Linked DNA regions of Homo sapiens: regions 2, 3 and 4 are each linked to region 1. Evidence: fine-mapped expression QTL. A gene starts in region 1. Each other region holds a variant in brackets. All regions are shown on one strand. Distances are between the middles of the regions.

What was found. PIP is the estimated chance that this variant, and not a neighbour inherited with it, causes the effect. A credible set is the group of variants that fine-mapping cannot tell apart.
Region 2: its variant is the best candidate, but not a certain one, in a credible set for the expression of ASB5 in cerebellar hemisphere (GTEx, PIP 0.63).
Region 3: its variant is the best candidate, but not a certain one, in a credible set for the expression of ASB5 in cerebral cortex (GTEx, PIP 0.51).
Region 4: its variant is the best candidate, but not a certain one, in a credible set for the expression of ASB5 in spinal cord (GTEx, PIP 0.80).

What each region holds. Positions count from the first base shown.
Region 1 is chr4:176,266,542-176,272,109 of GRCh38, forward strand. It overlaps ASB5 (ankyrin repeat and SOCS box containing 5), which reads right to left and starts at 2,681. Exons shown (of 7, transcript NM_080874.4): 1 at 2,372-2,681. The coding sequence starts at 2,567.
Region 2 is chr4:176,213,446-176,219,013 of GRCh38, forward strand. ASB5 (ankyrin repeat and SOCS box containing 5) reads right to left here. Exons shown (of 7, transcript NM_080874.4): 6 at 3,373-3,564; 7 at 228-2,282. The coding sequence ends at 2,155. Among named protein-coding and RNA genes, the nearest start is that of SPATA4, 21 kb to the left of the region's middle. The variant G/A (reference allele first, on the strand shown) is at 3,200.
Region 3 is chr4:176,244,851-176,250,418 of GRCh38, forward strand. All of the region lies in intron 1 of ASB5 (ankyrin repeat and SOCS box containing 5), which reads right to left. Among named protein-coding and RNA genes, the nearest start is that of ASB5, 22 kb to the right of the region's middle. The variant G/T (reference allele first, on the strand shown) is at 2,436.
Region 4 is chr4:176,231,683-176,237,250 of GRCh38, forward strand. The region is part of intron 1 of ASB5 (ankyrin repeat and SOCS box containing 5); the gene reads right to left. Among named protein-coding and RNA genes, the nearest start is that of ASB5, 35 kb to the right of the region's middle. RefSeq lists an enhancer at 2,372-2,541. The variant C/A (reference allele first, on the strand shown) is at 2,955.

The sequences.
Region 1 (5,568 bases):
AAGAAAGAATGAATGCTTAGAAGTAGAAGATTAAGAAAGAGTTTTATAAGGTACCTGATTTGCTCTCTTAATGTTAAAATAAAATTAGAAACAAATTATGCTTATATTGAATTAAAATTATAATACTATATTCTATTGTTTCATATACAGATTAATGCATGATATTAGAGGGGAAATTTTTGTTAAATACATCTAACATTAAAAATAACACAAAACAAAATTTGTAAAAACTTTGCTTCCATTTTATATTTCCAGGAAAAGTGTTTCCTATTGATATTGATTTCCTTTTTTCTTTCCTTCTTGAGACAAAAAATCCTAGAATTCTAATTTAATTTAAAACAGAATCCTAAAAGTATATGGGAATGTGGAAACCATTGCATATATTCCCATGATTTCCCAGCATAAGCACACTAAGATAAGTCTAATGAGGGGATGAGTGTTTCTTTTTATTTGAAAATATGTACAAAAAGGAGCTTCCATGGCCTCCTCTAAAACTCTTTTCAACCCACAAAAATGTTTCTTCTGTTTAGGCAATATTTCATGTGTTAATGTAGAGAAATTCTCATAATACATAGACAAGATCTGATTATGAAGTAATGTGCTACAGGCCGCCCATGAGGGTAAATTTTACCACTTTATGATCATGTAAGCTGTTTACTCGTGTATCTGCAAATATGGCTTTTGTTTTAAAATTTAGTTTTCTATGTTTGCTGTTTTGTACACAAATATTCCATTTGCCAACTAAATTTTTTATGTACAGATTAATCACATAGTGTATATGTCACATTTTGATATAGTTCAGGCCTGGCACGGAGGCTCACACCTGTAATTCCAGAGCTTTCAGAGGCTGAGGCAGGAGGATCCCTTGAGCCCAGGAGTTTGAGACCACCTTAGGCGGACAATGTTGAGACTCTGTCTCTACAAAGAATAAAATTAGCCAGGCATGGTTGTGTGTCCTAGCTACTTAGGAGGCTAAGGCAGGATGATCCCTTGAGCCTAGGAGTTCAAGGATGCAGTGAGAATTGAGCCACTCCACTTCACTACACTCCAGCCTGGGTGATAATGTTAGCCCCAGTCTCCATAAATGTATAAAATATAGTTCTCTCTGTTCTAAGGCAGAGGTGGTAGGTAAAGGGTTAAATACAGCCTATTTACTTGAGATTTTATCTTTCCCTAAAGAGATTCTTATGAACATTTAAATTTTCCTCATTTTGAATAAGAACATCAATTCCTCATGTTGCAAATTGCAGTCTTCCTCAGGAAACATGTACTCACTATCTACCTCACACACTAAAAAAGATTTTCCACCTTCACTCAACTTTCCATGTACTAATAGAGTAACCTAGATTTTAAAATGAGTCGCATCCCACATTGAAAAATGTAGGAACATGGATTTTAAGAAGGCAAGCTTTCTACTCTAAGAGACTTTTCTTTCAAGTTTACATGTTTAAATTGTGTGATAGTAAATTTCAATGCTGACAATTTAAGTTGTTTTGGAGGTATTTGGGCTATAAATATTCATGCATGCCTGTTGATTTTCAAATCAGAAATGAATCTGAAGACTATGAGAATTTAAAAATGGCACTTTAAAGCCTGCCATATGAGTCATTTTTATTTTTTAGAGTACCGACCCAATAGAACCTAAATGGTTTTACAACCTTCTGAAGTCTATGGGTAATATTGTTTCTCATTTGGTTTCATACTACAATTTCTTCTAAAGAACATGGATGCACTTGGCTGCACACATATAAAATGTATTAATTATGTTTCTATCCTTTTATAACCAATTTTTTACAAACTGAGCTGAGCAGTAACAATTCCATCAGAAAAACACATGTCGTCAATCTTCTTTGTGTGTGTGCTTTATTTTAGAGTCAAATGGTTATCTTATTAAAGTTGTGAGAAACCAAATCTTGAAATCCCCTCTTTTTAATAACAATTATTTTACACATAACTAAAGATTTAATTTAAAATTATACAATCCAGGTACACATTAGAGGACGACTGAAGTGCAATCAATTACTTCTAAAACTAATCTCTAATACTATGACTTGGCAGATCAAATGTTTAACTTTTTAAAATGTTTCTTAATAGGAATAGATATATTTCTATTACATATATATATTCCTATTATATATATAGTATGCCTTCCTTAATCTCTTTTGCAATGATACCTTGATTTTAACCCAAACATTTACATTAAAAAAGTAATTTTCCTTTTTATAAAGCCACGAAGTGAGTTACAAGTATTTCCCTTAACAAAAGTTTATAAAATATTTACCTTGAAGCAGTCTAAAAAGAAAACATGTAATTGTGGATCAGATGAAAGTTAAACTCCACTTGAAACAAGAGAGGATTATCATAAACATACCTTGTCCTTGGGTTACTCCATAAAATTCAGCTGCTATCCTTGCCGCTTCCTTGCGGTTGCCTTTCACTATGTAGAAATGACTGAGGATGGCAAGGCTGATTTTCACAAAAAGCTTAAAACAGAACAGCGAAAGTATTGTAAAGTAGACATTGGATAATTGTTGAGCAAACGGCCGATTTTCTTCTAACACCGACATTGCTGCAGAAGAATCTGCGGCGGTCTTTAGTTGGATCCAAGTCTCAAATGTGCCTGGCTCTCGTCCGGGATGCTCCTGAACAGCTGGTCCTGAGGAAAGAAAATATCAGCTGGTAGTGATGCCTACAGCTCAAAATATTTATACACTCCATAAAAGTTCTTCGCAAACTCCTATTGGTCTGAAAATATTCCATGGAAGCAATTGCATCACGTGTCACAAGTCTCCTGACTTTCCATTCTCAATATAAAATGACACTCCACCTCTGTGCTCCAAATTTCAAAATCCAGATATTGAAATATATATGCATATCCTTTCCATTTTATATATTTAGTTATCAAGAACAATTTGAAGACAGTGTATGGGGTTCCCATTGTTAATGTAAATGATATTCATATCGAGTAAAGTTGTCTATCATTTAAGGCTTTAAAATGGCACTGTACTATTTGTAGACCATGAGCTAAATCAGTACACAGTCCATGGCTTGTATTTTAATGACTACTCATCAAATTAACCAATTATGTTATTTTTACTGATTTAAAAAAACATTTTTCTTACAAGTCATTACACTGGAACATCACAGATTAATAACTTAACACGGTTCCTTCATCCAATGGACACTTTTTAAGAACTTGGTATGTGTCAAACCCTTTGCTAGATTTTGAAGTGACAAAGACAAGTAGAATGGTCCCTGCCACAAGGAACTTAGAGTCTAGTGGAGGAAATGGAAAAGAAATCAGGTAAATATAAAGAAGGTAAAAACAGGTATTAAGGGAGCACAAAGAGGAAGCATGTAAACCTGGGAGGGAGGTGTCAGAAAAGACATATCCAAAAGAATTATCAAGTAAACATACGCATTTCATCAAGACTGTCCAAAACCAAGGAAAACAATATACATTTTAGGCCTATAATCTTTGTTAACCCAAATATGTTTTATTCATTAATGAAATGCATCTGTATATAGGTATCCTTAGGCAACTTATATTTTAAAAGAGAAATAGAATAAATTATTAAGAAAATGACATACAGCAGCAATATTTTGGCATTTAAGCCAAAAATGATATGCCAAAATACAAAATATCATTTCTTACAGGGAGCTTAGTTACATATTTCTATGACTGGGTTTGGGGCCTGTTGATTGTGGTACTTGCTTCCTAATTCATTTGAGAAGTTCCAAAATAACAAAAAACAAACATAAGAAAATAGAAGTGGCCATTCTTGGAATAAGGAGCATACCCATGACTGGTCATACTAGTAAGTGTTGTGTGCTTCTCTCCCTCGGTGTATCCATTTTATGCTGAGTATCTTAACTGACTGGACAGATTTACCTGACACATTCCAACACAGGAGAAATGGCTGTAAAATAAATATGTCAAATAAAGCAGGCTGCTTCTTTCCCCAATGAATGAATGGCTCTCAGAAAATAATAATAATAATAATTAGATCTATATATTAGAAAGAAATTACCAAGCTTCTTATGAAAATGGCCCCTGGTATCATTTTCAGAGGCAGAATACTGGCTAGGCAGACATTAATTAGACCCAGTGTGCCATTTCATATGTGCTTTGGGAGTCAGTGAAAATTAACTTCAAATAGAAGATTAACAAAATGTTCCTCTCTTTCACTACTGGTAAGACTGTGTCAGTTGAGTCAATACATGCTGATTCTTCTATGGTGAGTCTTCCCTCTGGCATGATGATGCCTGACTCCACACTAGAGAGGTATGCCCGTGGACAGCTGGGCCATCACAGTGCTCTGAGTCACTGCAGACTTCCTCTTCAGTGCTTCGGGATCAGAAATAAAACCTGCCTTAGTCACGTCTAAGTGCCCATCTAAGGTTTCAGTCCTTTCTCTTTACCAGTAAGTGCTATCATAAATAATTGTCTTCGCATGAGCTAATCAGGAGCCTGGATTCTTTGGGGTTAAGAAACATTTTCATTTCACTAAGGCTGGAATCATCGGTGCATTAAGTTTAAATCCTTCTAGTTTTACTAATACAAAAAACTACAGTATAATATTTAGGATTTTATGTCAAGATATCAGGTTTTGTTTTTATGAATTACTTGATTCCCATTTGTATGTTCTGTTGGTATACTCTCCCTCAGCAAATTTCACCCTCTCTGAGTCTGCTAATTACTAAATAAAAATTAAGCCCAAATAAAATGACTCATAGCATACGAATTCTTCAAGTGGAAATTAGATGCTGTATTTTTCATATTATAAACGCTTCCAAATAACACTATGAACAACTCTGTTAATACTTAAAAGACACATAACCACATTAAAAGTATTGTGCATCTATTTTCCTGGCATTTTCATTTCGTCAGGAAAATAAAATATTGATTAGTCATTGAAGTGACTTACTGAGATAAATGTTTTTATAATATACCATGTTGAGAGACTGTGGTAGCAAGGTCTAGTTGATTAGCTCAGTATATCTCAACTTTCCTAATTTTGTTAGCTTCGATCAATCAGTCAAACTAAAGTGTTGAAACTGAACTCAACATTGTAGTACTAGAATGAATGATGTGAGAAAAGTTAAAACATAGGAAAAATCATTTATTGAGGGTACGTTGGATGCTACATGCATATATTTATTTATTTATGAATTTATTTCATCTTAGGGGGGTGAATATTATTATTCACATTTTAAAAATGAGAAAAGTTGGGCTCAGAGAGCTTTAGAGACCTATAAAAGTTAATTATAAAGAACAACACTATTTGAACATAGTTCTAACTAAAATACATGCTCAAGTTGCCTCTAAAATTTTCTATTTTTAAGCACTTACAATCTGATTGAGCAAATACGACTCATACATACAGAGATTGAGACAGAGTCACACAGATTCACAGACACATACACATACTGCCCCCACCCACGACACACACAGAAGAGATCATACAAGATTATATGTAATCAGGAACCTAAATTACTCCAGTAAGCTGCATACATGCTACAATGATTAAATAAGATGGAACTTTATGTGCGCTTACTAAGTGGGAA
Region 2 (5,568 bases), 53 kb before region 1:
ATTATATGTATTAAATATCACATATATTATATGTATTATATGTCACATATATATAAAATATGTCTTGGATTAGAAGGTCTTTGAGGTATCTATTTTTTATTCTGTGCTACTCTATCTTAATGCTCATGATTCAGTGATTTGGAAACTGGTGGTGAAAAAAATTAGTGCAACTGAGTCACTCCATGACTTTTCATTATAAAATAAAATAATGAGACAAACACAAAGTGTTTTATTCCAATGAATAATAATCACACTTTAATATAATAACAAACATACAATACATTAAAGTTAGAACACTACTTTGATAAGACAATCATACTCAAGCTAAGATACAAGGTACAGACATACTGAAATTGTAAAGTGACCATTTTAATGTTTGATATTTACTTCTCTTATTGGCACAAGACTAATAAGATAGATGGGTTGTATTACTCTTAAAATCTAAGACTTCTCCTCTAGCTCAGGGAAAATACTGGTGGAAACCTGTTTTACCCAAAAGCAGCTTTAATATCTGTTTAACCAGGTTATTCTATAATAAGAACTCCATTTTAATGCACGTTATCCATTACAAATGTGTGAGATATTCTATAAAACACATATTTAAAGGTCCCTATCCTCATATAAAACATTGTTTAGTGAATATGCTACAGCTTTATTTCTATGTTTGAAAATCTCAACAAACGTTTTAAATCACAACTGATTTTTTTTCTTTCTGCCAAAATGCAAGCTTAGTGATCTGGGGGTCACATACAATCATAATTTATTTTCCCATAGTCTGGAAGTTAGCCAAGAAGTCAGAAGAAAATAAGCCCTGGGTTGTTGAAAATAGTGGTCAAAATATTTACTTTATCAAAATTTAATAAATCTATAAAACTCACCCAAAGTTGCTTTTGTTTTACAAAGAGTTGTACGTTGATTATCTTATTTCTAAAATCATAATAGGCCCTGAATTACAAAACAGGCATAAAATTTTATTAAGTTTTTTATTGCACTCAAGTATAGTTAAAGCTGAAGAGAATAAACGTAGTATTTACCCTTGCAGAGGACTAGCTTAGTAATATCTTCTTTTATACAATACTCTCTTGCTATTACTTGCAAATACAGTATACTCTAAGCCCTTGTTTTGTGTAAAAAGAATTAGAAACAGTGCGATTAAGTTCTCTATATACATTTTTTAAGGTCTCCAATGTGTTAAGTGGCACCCACTCTTTAAAAACTCCACAATTTGAGTTTTTAATCTTCCATTTTTTTATATCCTTGGACTGATGTGATGATCCCCGGAATATGATCCAGGGCCTGTTTGTTAATTAGATATATAGTTCATTTTCTTAAGTCCAAGTATCACTAGCTATTGACAATTTCTGAAATGGAAGAAGGCTGGAGTAATATGCATATAACCGCCTTGATAAGAGATCATCAGGGGCTACTCCTGAGAAGGAGGCAGTCTTAACATAGCCTTAGAAGGTGTGTAATGTTCTAAATATCTCAGGGTGAGAGGGCAGTATTGACCTTTCATCCTATCACTTTTCTGTAACAAGTCCATGTACTATGGAGAAGAGAAGTGACTTGTGAGTCCTTTGCCAGGGGTAAGTGGGGGAGAGGGGGGCAATTTATCTTTATGAAGTGTTCATTCTAATGACCAGTGGACATTCAACATAGTGGATTTCCTGAATGAGCATCATCCTGGTTTCAGAAAACATATTAGTTGCTCTTTGCTAAGCCATATTCATATTTTATGTCAATATCAGTAACAAGTTAGCCAATTACAATAGCCAAAATTAAAAAGTTAACCCATTAGTTGAAGAACATAGACCTTTTTAAATATAATATGAATAACTTTACTAGGAGCTTTATTTCTTTCCAATCCAAAAGAAAACATAAGATAGTGACTTTATTATTTTTTCCTGAATAAACAGGAGGGTATATTGAAATAACAAAAAATAGATATTATAAATATGCTATAATCCAAAGACAGCATAAATGATAAAACAATAGTACTAATACACTTAAAATGAAAATTGATATTTTACTGCTTCCCTGGGTGATCTCACACTCACTTTTATCCTATCTTTAGCATATTTTTATATGAACTATTCCTTAAGCAAAAGAAATAGAAATTTTGATTTTCAAGGTATTTAGAATTACTTTACTGTTTTATCGATACTGTAAGAAATTCTTCAGTAACGTTGGCAGCTGGAGTTGTGGGATAAGGTGCAATCTTGGTTTTCCTATGTAGCTTCGGATACAGAGTCGGCAAAGTTGGTAAAGAGAGCTTGGGGTAGCTACAAGAAGACATGAATCTATTTGTTAATTAAAATAGAAATGAATTTTTTATGTTGTAAGGTACATAACATAAAACCATAAAAACTACAATGCTTTGTAGTAAACCTAGGATAGCATGACCACTATACTAGGGAAATTTATGTAAGCAGTTATATTGCTTTTATTTATAAGATCTTATTATAATTGAGATATATTCCATATACATTCCTTAAAATATTATAATCCTCAGGCTTAGGAAATAATTGTTGAATTTAAAGCCTCAGAAACAAAGTCTGCTTTTTGAAGGAGATATAAATCAAAAGTCCTGAGAAGTATTATGCACTAAAAGGGGAAATTTTAAAATTAAGTTTAATATTTACCCTAAAAGAAATATTATAGTCCCTGGACTAGGATTAAGAAATCCTATTTTAGAACAAAAGTCTCAAATGTAAAAATATTTACTAATTTTATTTCTATAATATGTTATAGAAGGTTCATGTCCTTATAAAATGGGGCATGCTCCAAATATAAATCAGCAGATATTATACCAGAAGTGCATATAATGCATTACTGAAACTAATTGAATATATTTAACCAAAAATATATGAGAGTTTAGGTAAGATGAAAGAGAAAATTAAAATTATCATTTTTTTTCTTTTTTTTAGATGGAGTCTCACTCTGTTGCCAGGTTGGAGTGCAGTGGCGTAATCCTGGCTCACTGCAACCTCCGCCTCCCGGGTTCAAGTGATTCTCCTTCCGCAGCCTCCTGAGTAGCTGAGATTACAGGCACGCACCACCATGCCCAGCTAATTTTTGTGTTTTTAGTAGAGACAGGGTTTCACCATGTTGGCCAGGATGGCCTTGATCTCTTGACCTTGTGATCCACCCGCCTTGGCCTCCCAAAGTGCTGGGATTACAGGTGTGAGCCACCACACTC[G/A]GCTGATATCTTCTTTATAGATAAAACCTAAGTTAAAAATCATCTACTTTCACAAATAATATTCCACATTTTATGCCATTGTTACTTTCCATGCCAACAAAAACTCTCTCACTTTCATCTATTTTAGGCAAATATATTTTGTTTTTGTAAGTTTCCACATGTATTTTTCTTACCTTCATGTTGAAGCAATATCCTTTCCACCATACTGCTAGACGTAGCTACATCTATAGGTCGCAGAAGCTCTGTATTTTTGGCATTGATATCTGCTCCAAATTCTAGCAGTAAGTTTACAATTTCTGTGCTGGATTGTTGAGCAGCAGCATGTAATGGAGTATCCCAATATTTGCCTTTCTGTACGTCAGCACCTACATGTAATACGGAGTGAAGATAAATATAAATAAAAGTTGTTAAATAAGCCAGCTGCCTCAGTGGGGATAGAAAAGGAAAGGCAATAGAGGAAGGTTATTAAGGGGACTTCAACTCTATTTGTTATGAGTTATTTCTTTATATACATATACAGTATCTACATACACATATATGCCTCATATGTACATATACATATATATAAACTGGGCACATCTGAATGGCAGAGGGTACATACATTTGTTATGTGACTCTCTGATACTTTTCTGTATGCTTGAACTATCATAATAAAATTCTTTTTAACTTTTAAATGATTCCAAAAGTAACCATACTAACTACTATTATAAAGAGTGCACAATTAAGTTCACTCATTTTTATTTTCATCATGGTTGATAGCTTTTAGAATTATTCAGGTGCTTATTTCTATTATTCTTTTCATTTATTTAAGGCAATGAAGCTCTTTGGTTTTCTTGGGAAACTCATGAATATGTGAGCTATTTAGGTAAAATGTATATAGATTTTCCTGCCATTTCTCACTTATGTAGTTTAAGTCAGTAAGTATATAAAGATATTGAGCCTTTTAAATCAAAAGGCACATTGATGATATCTGCATGAAAGGAAAGCTTTTAAAAATGCTTATGTTAAAATACAGCCTACATGCTACATTACCTATTGCACACTTACTTTATCCCAGTGCAAAGCCTGGCACATGCTGGTCATTCAATGCATTTGCAATAAATAAATGCTGTTTAGTACTGTTAAAAATAACCATCCCATTTTCTGGTACATAAACGGTTACAATACCAGAAATGTCTACCAATAAAAATGCATAAGTTCTTTTCAACTCTGTTTTCCGATACTATCTTTAAAACTAATGATGTCTTCATGAAGCAGTACAGTTAAAGTGTCCCTTTATGGCCCTTCTGCTCCTTTCAAATTTCAATAAATGTAATCATTTTCAATATTTTTAAAACAAATATAAAATGTTTCGTGAAAAAATTATATTCCATAACAAAATTTCCATAAAGAAAGCATAAACTTTGTTGGTTATGTCAATTTTATGGAAGAAAAGGGTCTGAAAATAACAATCAATCAACAATTACTAACAGTAATTTCTATATATATATATTTGTATGATATATAAATATATACATTTGTATGATATATAAATATATATATTTGTATGATATATAAATATATATATTTGTATGATATAAATATATATATATTTGTATGATATATAAATATATATATATTTGTATGATATATAAATATATATATATTTGTATGATATATAAATATATATATTTGTATGATATATATATTTGTATGATATATAAATATATATTTGTATGATATATAAATATATATGTATGATATATAAATATATATTTGTATGATATATAAATATATATATTTGTATGATATATAAATATATATATTTGTATGATATATAAATATATATATATTTGTATGATATATAAATATATATATTTGTATGATATATATATTTGTATGATATATAAATATATATATTTGTATGATATATATATTTGTATGATATATAAATATATATATTTGTATGATATATAAATATATATGTATGATATATAAATATATATTTGTATGATATATAAATATATATATTTGTATGATATATAAATATATATATATTTGTATGATATATAAATATATATATATTTGTATGATATATACATTTGTATGATATATAAATATATATATTTGTATGATATATAAATATATATATTTGTATGATATATAAATATATATATTTGTATGATATATAAATATATATGTATGATATATAAATATATATTTGTATGATATATAAATATATATATTTGTATGATATATAAATATATATATTTGTATGATATATAAATATATATATTTGTATGATATATAAATATATATGTATGATATATAAATATATATTTGTATGATATATAAATATATATATTTGTATGATATATAAATATATATGT
Region 3 (5,568 bases), 22 kb before region 1:
ACACTACAGGTTCAAGTGGGGAGGATCACTTGAGCCCAGGAGTTCAAGGCTGCAGTGAGCTATGATTGCACCACTGTGCTCTCACCTGGGCAACAGAGATCCTATCTCAACAACAACAGCAACAATAACAAAAAAGATGACCCAGGCCTCACCTCAGTCACCACCCTCTTTATAAGCTGTCCCCTAAAGCCAGCTCTTCAGGAGTTCCCAGATAAACTTAATTATTCATTACCAGGAAGTGATGAGATACGTTATGAAGCTATGCAAACATAATGAAACACAAAGAAATCCCCCATATTGACAAAGGGCTAATATCCAGAATCTACAAAGAACTTAAATAAATTTATGAGAAAAAATCAAACAACCCCATCAAAAAGTGGGGAGAGGATATGAACAGACACTTTTCAAAAGAAGACATTTATGCAGCCAACAGACACATGAAAAAATGCTCATCATCACTGGTCATCAGAGAAATGCAAGTCAAAACCACAATGAGGTATCATCTCACACCAGTTAGAATGGCGATCATTAAAAAGTCAGGAAACAACAGGTGCTGGAGAGGATGTGGAGAAATAGGAATGCTTTTACACTGTTGGTGGGAGTATAAACTAGTTCAACCATTGTGGAAGACAGTGTGGCGATTCCTCAAGGATCTAGAACTAGATATACCATTTGACGCAGCCATCTCATTACTGGGTATATACCCAAAGGATTACAAATCATGCTACTATAAAGACACATGCACACGTATGTTTATTGTGGCACTATTCACAATAGCAAAGACTTGGAACCAACCCAAATGTCCATCAATGACAGACTGGATTAAGAAAATGTGGCACATATACACCATGGAATACTATGCGGCCATAAAAAAGGATGAGTTCATGTCCTTTGCAGCGACATGGATGAAGCTGGAAACCATCATTCTGAGCAAACTATCGCAAGGACAGAAAAACCAAACACCGCATATTCTTATTCTTCGGTGGGAATTGAACAATGAGAACACTTGAATACAGGGTGAGGAACATCACACACTGGGGCCTGTCGTGGGGTGGGGACTGGGGGAGGGATAACATTAGGAGAAATACCTAATGTAAATGATGAGTTAACGGGTGCAGCAAACCAACATGGCACTTGTATACATATGTAACAAACCTGCACGTTGTGCACATGTACCCTAGAACTTAAAGTATATAAAAAAAAATTACACAGATAAAAAAAAAGAAATCCCCCATATTGATCTTGGTGTAAAATTAGTAATGGTTATTTAACTTAGGCTAATTAGAACTTGCTGTGTTGCTGTTAAAATATCAGAATTGGAAGAAGTGGGGGAAAATGTTTTACTGTATTTAATTTTAACCATAAGGGGAAAGGCTTTTACAGCTACTATAAGACTATTTATGGGTCAAGAGATAATAGGGAAAAAGGAAGAATGATGCTATTCGATGAGATTTTTCTGAGGCAATCTTCTATAAAGTCTTTTTAAAATCTTATCTTAAGAAAAAGAAGAACCTTTCAGACCACCTATCAGATACATGCAGTACATGTATTCAGGATGTAAGGAATGGACTCTGAAAGATAATTTCACTTAAACCAGTATCACAGCACTAGCCATGACCACAGAGTATGAGTGTAGACAGTCCACACCACAGTGCAGTTGCTTATTTAGTGAGTTCAGGTGCTGTGAACTGTTTCTCCAGATATTAAAGCTGAAACATGAACTACACCAATAATGATACGGGGAATGCTTTTTTAAAAATGCATTTGCAGAAGCAAACTCTCCTCAGTATACTGAATGTCTAGATGTGTACACAGCTCAAAGTGAGATACTTCCTTAAGAATGGTAAGGGGTAGCTACAAAAACAAAACAGAAAACCTTCAGAAGACGTGATGGTTAATGACAGAATGTCGAAGGCTTTCCCTCTCAATTGAAAAACAAAAATGAACACTCCCTACCACCAATCTATTCAACATCATACAAGAGGTTTAATCCATAGAATAAAGAAAGAAGAAGAAATAAAAATGGTACAACATTTAGAAAGGAAACAAAACTCTCATTATTCACAAATAATATAACTTTTCACATAAAAAATCCCTATAGAACCCATAGATTCCTATTAGAATTAATAAGAGAGCTTAGAAAAGTTCTTTGGTATGAAATTAATATACAAAAATTAATGTATTTCTCTCTGCCCTTGACAAACAGGTTGAAAATGTAAAAATTTATTAAGATATTATTTATGGTAGCATAAAACAATTTGTTACCTATGAATAAATTCAACAAATATATGTAAGATCTCCCCAGGAGACGATAATAAAACATTATTGGGAGATATTCAATAAAACCTATATAAATGAGAAACTATATTACATTTATGATTGAAAAGCCAAGTATTACAAAGTTGTAGATTCTCCTTCAAATAAATGATTTATAG[G/T]TTCAATGAATTCCAACAAAAATGCAACAAGTATTGTGCGAACCACAGAAATTACTTCTAAAATTGATACATAGAATTTCAAATTACCAAGAATAGCCAAAACTATGAAAAAATAGAAGAATGTGGGAGATCTTGTTCTGTCTATGAAGACCTATTCTAAAGCTACAGAAATCAGTTTAGTGTAGTATAGGTCCAGAGCAATGTAATTGATAAGAGCCCATAAGCAGACTCATGCATGAATAAACACTAGACTTACACAAACTGGGCACTGTAGTGACTATAGATTATGAAATATAGAACCCACTTTCCAATACATGGTGTGAATATAATTGACCATGCATTTGGTGAAAAATGGACTTACACCATACAAAAAATTAAATTCAAGTGGATGAATTTCAAAGGAATGCTTTAAGTATATGGAAGAAATACTTCCATTACCTTGAAGTGCCAAAAGATTTTTAAGATGAATTCCACAAAAAGTCTTAATCAAAGTGGAAAGGATTTGTAAATTTGACTATTTTTAAATTAAGAGTTTCTGTTCACCAGTAGAAACACCAATAAAAAGTGAAAAGTCAAGCCACAGAAGATATTTGTAAATAGTTCTTCTAAATGTTTTCATTTTCTTAACAATTTTAGGATACAAAATAACTTCTAAAACTCAATTTTAAAAAGGGGGAAGACAGATGGCCTGATAGAATAGAAGGCAAAATATTTGGCGAGCACATTGCAAAGGAAGAAGTACAAATGGTCAACAAAAATCAAAATGGCATTATTAGTCAGGGAAATGAAAATTAAACCATAATATACTCCCACATGCCCACCATATTGGCAATTTTTTATTTTTTATCTTTTCATTTTTTTGAGATTGAGTCACTCTGTCATGCAGGCTGGAGTGCAGCGGCACGATCATGGCTCACTGCAGCCTCACCCTCCCCAGGCTCTGGTGGGTCTCCCTCCTCAGCCTCTTAAGTAACTGGGTCTACAGGTGCACACTACCATGCCTGGCTAACTTTTGTATTTTTTGTACAGATGGGGTTTTGCCACGTTGCCCAAGCTGGTCTCCTGAGCTCAAGTGATCCACCCACCTCGACCTACCAAAGAGCTAGGATTACAGGTGTGAGCCACTGTACCCAGCCCACATTGGCAAATATTAAGAGTACTGACAATATGTGAATTCTCATAACCTGCTGGGGTTTCACCACAGATACAGCCACATTGGAAAACAGGGCAATACTGTCTTAGAAACTGGAGATACACAGGCCCTATGACCTGGAAATTTCACTTCTAGAGCTATAAAAACTTATTTATACTAGATGTTTATAGAAATATTGTTCATAATTGCCCCAAATTGGTAATGGAATTTACATTATTGAGAATGAATGAACCTAGATATATGTAGGCAATTATATCATACTGTTCATTGTAAAAGTAAATAACAAAAGAATATTTAGAGAATGATTCAATTAATATAGGGTTCAAAAATAGGTTAAACCATATCAATATGAGATGTATGCATAGGAGCTGAAACTAAAGAAAGGCAAGAAAATGATTACTATAAAAACTAGTCACTCGGTCTTGATGGGAGAAGGAGAAGGTATTGTGATTGAAAAGAGATACATGAAGGCTTCTGGGGTTCTATTTCGTGACTTGAATGGTTGTTATACAGGTTTACATTTTGTTTGTTTTGTTTTGCTTTTTTGAGACAGAGTCTTGTTCTGTCGCCCAGGCTAGAGTACAGTGGTGTGATCTTGGCTCCCTGAAACCTCTGCTTCCCGGGTCCCAACGATTCTCCTGCCTCAGCCTACCGAGTAGCTGGGATGACAGGCGTGGGCCACCACACCCGACTAATTTTTGTATTTTTAGTAGAGACAGGGTTTCGCCATCTTGGCCAGGCTGGTCTTGAACTTCTGACTTCAAGTAATCTGCCCGCCGCAGCCTCCCAAAGTGTTGGGATTACAGGCGTGAGCCACCGCATCTGCCCTATACAGTTTTGTGTTTCAAAATCTTGTATTAAACTCTGTAAACAAAGTTCTGACCATTTTTCCCAGTTGCGGCGTATTTTATGATCAAGAAAATACTAATTAACAAAAAGATCCCAGGTAAAAAGATTTTAAAATAGAGGCAGAGGTTAACAGAAAATGCGACACTCCCAATATGAGAAGAGAAGAGTAAACACTTGGCTCTTCTTACCCTGCTGTTCTTTATTCCAACCTGCAGTCTTAGTGGGACTCTCTGCTCTCCCTGATTGGGAGAGCAGATCTGCTGAATGTCTGCTCTACCACTGAGGGTAATAAGAGACTTCAGTTCTTCTCCCATTGGTGCTGAGAAGTAACAGGGCATCCGAGAAGACCTAGGAAATTTCTCCTCATATGAAACTGTGCTTGGTGGAGAGGATGAGAAAACATGGAGTTAGACGAGTGCTCCAGAGGGCTGGGGAAGCAAAATTTCCAACAGCATTCTTTAAGTGACCTTAGGCGATCCTTAAAAGAAAGTGAGTTGGCCGGGCGCGGTGGCTCACGCCTGTAATCCCCGCACTTTGGGAGGCCGAGGCGGGTGGATCACGAGGTCAGGAGATGGAGACCATCCTGGCTAACACAGTGAAACCCCGTCTCTACTAAAAACACAAAAAATTAGCCGGGCGTGGTGACGGGCGCCTGTAGTCCCAGCTACTCGGGAGGCTGAGGCAGGAGAATGACATTAACCCGGGAGGCGGAGCTTGCAGTGAGCCGAGATCACACCACTGCACTCCAGCCTGGGTGACAGAGTGAGACTCCATCTCAAAAAAAAAAAAAAAAAGAAAAAGAAAAAGAAAGTGAGTTAAGTGAAATATCACCTGCAAGGCCACAGGGAGTGTCCTAAAATAATGATGATTACACATTATTTGGTGACTCAGTGCAGCTGTTCTGAGTTCGGTCAAGTACATTTACGTTCTGGAATAGGGTGGCTGAGGTCACGGGCGTGATAAATTCACAAAAGGTAGCTTGGGTTCTTTGTGCTAAAAGTTTCTCTGGCCAGGAAACTGATTCACCAAAAGTCAAAATAAATGTGCATAGCATTATTTAGCATTCAGAGCTAAAAGTGGACGTAGAAATCATTTTCTTTAGCCATTTACAAATGGCTTCAAAGAGCCCGA
Region 4 (5,568 bases), 35 kb before region 1:
AATTAAAAAAAATTATCTGGGCATGGTGGCATGCCCCTGTAAATGCCAGCTACTAGGGAAGTCCTGAGATGAGAAGATCGCTAGAGCCCGAGTTTGAGGCTGCAGTGAGCTGTGTTCCCAATACTGCACTCCAGCTTGGGCAACAGAGTGAGACTCTGTCTCAAAACAAAACAAAACAAATAAACAAAAAAGTCTTTACCTGCTCCCAATCTTAGAACATCCCATCAGCAGAAGCAGGATGTGGACTCAATAGAGAGCTAGCTTAGCAATGGTGCAGAGTTTAGCCACACCTGCTCTTCCTCAGTGTTCTCAAAATAGGAAAATTAGGGAATTAATTATAAGGAGAGGGAATAAGCAATGACATTTCATATAACATGTTCATTTCAGTAAAAAATGGCAATACCTTTTTCAGATCTCTTACCTATTTTATATATATATATATATACTTTTTTTTTTTGAGTTGGAGTTTTGCTCTTGTCACCCAGGCTGTAGTGCAATGGTGCGATCTCGGCTCACTGCAACCTCCACCTCCCAGGTTCCAGTGATTCCCCTGCCTCAGCCACCCAAGTAGCTAGGATTACAGACATGTGCCAACACACCCATCTGATTTTTGTATTTTTAGTAAAGATGGGGGTTTCACCATGTTAGTCAGGCTGGTCTCCAACTCCTGACCTCAGATGATCCACCCGCCTCGGCCTCCCAAAGTGCTGGAATAGATGTGAGCCACCGAGCCTGGCCCCTGTAAAATATTAAACCAACAATCGTCTTCACAATGGAGGTGGATTTACCATGAAGCCAGTGAAACCCTTAACCTGCACAGACTCCCCTTCTAAGACTCTGTCCCTAATTTCATGTTACTTTTCTTAAAGGAGCCCCCAAAGTGTATACAGTATAAGCTTCAGACTTGACAACATGTAGCCCATCTCTACTCACAAGTTTATAAGCAAATTAAAAATCACCAGGCATTTACTAGCCTTTATTGTATACTTTCAGACAACCACAGAGCCACAGAAATCCTTGAAACATGGTTTCAAGGGAAATAATGTCTGGCATCTCAATGCATTTCTAAAAGCCAACATCTTTCTCTTAAGACTAGCTATTCCTTTTTCACTTCTCTATTGGTTTAAACAGTGTTACCATTTCCCTCCATCACCTGGTAATAATCATATGGTCTCAAATTTAAGCACAATAATTTTCAAGCTATCAGCTATCTCAATTAACTATTACTGATCACTGGTGCCATGGATAGAGCATGCTGGATTTAACTATAAGATAGACCTGAGTTCAAATTCCAGCATAGATATTTACTAGTTATGTGACCTTTGGCAGTTAACATCTTGAAACCCAGTTTTCTCAACTGTAAAAACAAGGATGAGTCTACCTGCCTCACTGAATTGTAATGAATGTAAAGTACTTAGCACAGTACTAAATGCATTTGAAACATCACAAATACAACCCAAATTTCATTTTAAACAATTACTTTCATATATCTTCCCCATCAGCTTTTAACTACATCTTCTAAACAGAAGGAAGGATAACTTATTTAAGATAAAGATGCTTTATCTCATCTTATTCCTCTTGGCTATATATCTGTAGGAGACAAAAATAGATATTGTCAAAATTTAGTAACAATTATTACATGCATATGGATTACTCTAATCTACATAGCTCCCACGCTGATCTCTCCCACAAATTTCAGCGCCACATGTTAAAATTTACTTCTGGGGATTCACCTAGATATTTTCCTGGCATCTCAATCCATTTCTAAAAGCCAGCATCTTTCTCTTAAGATTAGCTAGTCTTTTTTCATTTCTCTATTGGTTTAAACAGTGTTACCATTTCCCTCCATCACCTGGTAATGATAATATGGTCTCAAATTTAACCGCAATAATTGTCAAGGAAACTTTATATATTGAGTGTTTCGTGTGCTTCTTTGAAAGGAGTCAGTTGTTTTTGGCCCAGTGTTTTTTTCCATTGTTGCGGTAGTTTCTTTTCCCACCTTGAGTCCTCATCATCCAAGCTCAGTCTTTGCATCTATCTACATTAACTCTTGAGGAGCTCCCTTCTAGTGCCATGAACATAAATATTATCCACATATTGATTACCCCAATTTTAGGTTTGGCTGTTCAACTTCTCCACTTGAATATCTAAATAGGTAATACAACTTAACATGTCCCAAACCGAACCCTTGATTCCTTACTCCTAACTTCTCCCGATCCGCAAATGGCAACTGCACTCATCCAGGTGCTTCAAGGCCAAAACCCTCTGCATAATCCTTAGTTTCTGTTTCTCACACCCACCAGGCGCACACCAGGAAGTCATTTTGCCTCTATCATTTAAATGTATCCAAACTTTGTATCTCAGCCTCCACCACTATACCCTAGTCCAAGCCACCATTATTCTCATCTGATGTATTGCAAAAGTCTCCTAACTAGTCAGTGTGTTTCTGCCCATGCCCTTCCAGTAGTCTGTACTAAACATGGGAGCCAAAGCAATCCTTTGGAAGTTAGAAAGAATCCCATGGCTTCCCTTCACACCTGGAATAAAATCCGAAGTCTTTGTCATGACCTATGAACTCTCCAGGCTCTGATCTCGGGTTCTACCCACTTTTTCCTAGGCCCATCATCCTCATCCAGACATACTGGCCTCCTTGCTTTTCCTTACACAACCTTCTGTTTGCTCTTTCTGAAGTACTCCTTTCTGAGACCCACATCACTTGTTCTCTGACTTTAGTGCTCTCTGAAATATCACCTTATCAGAGAGGCCTTCTTGACAACCTTCTATTAAAAAATCCTCCCTGTCCCTTCCCCAACATTCATGCTTTGTCTCCTTTCCCTGCTCTACTTTTCTTCTCAGCACTTATTACTAGAATGCTAGACCTTAGAAAGCGAGACTCAGTTGATTTCATTCATTACCATATCCTCAATACCTAGCACATCAGTGAATGTTTGTTG[C/A]ATGAATGAGTGCTCAAAGTCACATGATCACACCCAGCTTCATTAGAACCTTGTCTGAGCAGCCGTATGGAGCTTTGTAATGGGGTTAAAATCAAGGGCTGTGAAAGGAGGCATATCCGAATTGGACTCCTGACTCTATCACATATTGGCTCACTCTGTTTTTTACACTGCTAAGTTTCAGTTTCCTCACTATAAAATGGGGGCAATCATACTTACATATTCTAGTTGTTCTAAGGGTTACATGGACATGAGAAGTGTCTAACACAAAGTGTGTTCTTAAGAAAGTCAATGTTATGATTTCCATTGCATTAGGACTTAGGGGAATTAAATAACTTGCCTCAAGTTATAAACAATAACTGACAAAGCCAGGAAGCAAACTCCGTTCTTTTGAATGTCCAGTTGAAATTTTAGGGTACAATATTCTTTTCAACCCTAGAACTCATAGGGCACTTGGTGGACTGTTATTCCATAATGAGTCCATAATAAATGTAACTAACAGACTAGACAAATGAAGAGTTACTTCAATAAAAGGAAGAATTGTGGAATTGTGTTTTCTACATTTTCATATAATAATAGTATATTTGAAATAGTAGCAAAACACAGCAATACAGTACTATTAACTATAATACCTTATTGATTATAAAAGTTGTACATTAAATAAGTGAAATTTGACATACACAAGAAATCATAGTGCTTATTTCTAAGTACAACCATTATAAACATTTTAGGGTGTATCTTTCCAACTTTTTTCTAGAAACACACATTTTTTAATCAAGATACAATCATAGTGTTTGTAAGGTTTTTAACTGATTTGTTTTCATTTAAGATATCTCATGGTCATTGTTCTATGTGAAAAAATATAGTTCTACCACAAGTGATTATGATATATTGATATGTATTTAATCATATAGCTAGAGCATTATGTGTGTATTTATTTATTTAATTATCTATCAAATGATGTTTAGGTGGCTTTTAGTTTTGGGAAATCAAATATTATTACTTATCTTTGTGAATAATTATCTGCTTAGGGTAAATTCCTAAAATTTTGACACATACCATCAAATTACCTCCAGCAAGACTGATCCTATTTACATTCTCATTAACAGCACTGGGAAAATGTAAAGCTAAATCTAGTGAAAGTTTGCTAAGACTTGTCTTTTTTTTTTTTATTTTAAATCATAGCATGGGGGCATTTTTTTTATTATATATTTTTTCTTCTCCTTTTTTTCAGAGACAGAATCTTGCTCTGTCATCCAGACTGGAGGGCAGTGATGTTCTGAACATCGCTCACTGCAGCCTTCAAATCAGGCTCAAGCAATCCTCCTGCCTCAGCCTTCTGAGTCACTGGAATAACAGGTATGTGCCACTGGGCCTGGCTCTATATTTTCAGTATATTTAAGGCATGTCGAAAAAAAATTGTATAGAAAATTAGATTTTTGACATAAAACGATAGCTTATTTTCAACTTCCTTTAGAGTCTCTATCTGCATTGAAGATATGTGAGACTCATCCAGGTGAATTAGTTTACTTAATTTTTTTTTTTTAATTTTTGCCATTGACACAGTTCTATTATGTTGCTAATGCCTGCGGTTTAGTGCATAGTTAGGTAACTTACCCTTCATTTAAGAAATGACAGGATTGTCTTTATTTCTTTAATAATTGCATTCCTTCTGGACTTTAAGGACCATGAAATGATGAGACTACTTATTGCTGCTCCCCGCCTCTAGCACAGTGTCTAGCACGCAGTCAACACTGGATAGGCATTTGTTGAATTGTTGAATTGTCTTCTTTGTAGTCAACCACTTTTTTCCTTGCTGGTATATTTCTCAATTTTGTTGTTAATTATGTTGTTGAAAAGTAACAAAAAGGAAATGTGTATTGGGGTGGGGAGTAGGGATCCAGTTGCTTTCTCAAACTTTGAAAGAAATTATAGTGTTTTAGCCTATTTGAAAATATGCTTTGTATGTTTGAAAAACATAATCATTTATAATAACATTCTTCAAGCTCCAGCTATTACATAGTAAATATAACTCTTACAATCTTGGGGGGCAAGAGTCATTTTCTCTCTGAATCTGCATTTTCGACCCTTAAATTTATCATCTATCATACTGGTGTTCTACTAAAACTTATGCAAATGTATGGATATTCCTTTTTAAAAATAATTCCTCCTCTTTGGTACTGTGCTCATTCTCCTTTCTATCTTTCATAGTTTTCTATCATTATAATTAATGACTTCGTGTCAGAACACTTTTAGGAAGTTGCTCTACTCATTTTCTTGCCTAAATCATCCTCCTACTTGATGTCTAATTTACATGATTTAAAATTTCCATATTGCCTGTAAACAGTCTTTTCCTGCTTAATAGCATCTTTCCTTGTTTCCATACCAACTTAGAAACACCTGCTGAAACAGAAAGGTAAACAAACCAGAGTCTAAGAGTTTGCAGTCATGTTTAATATACAGTCACAAAAATGAGTCAGCCGATGCAGTTTCCATACACGAAAAGGCAAGAATACAGAGCAGTCCTTTGCCATGCCATACATGTGCATTTCAATCCGCATTCTGGAAAGCACCCGCAGTTTAAAGTTAGTATTTGCAAAAACAGGCCAATGTGGTT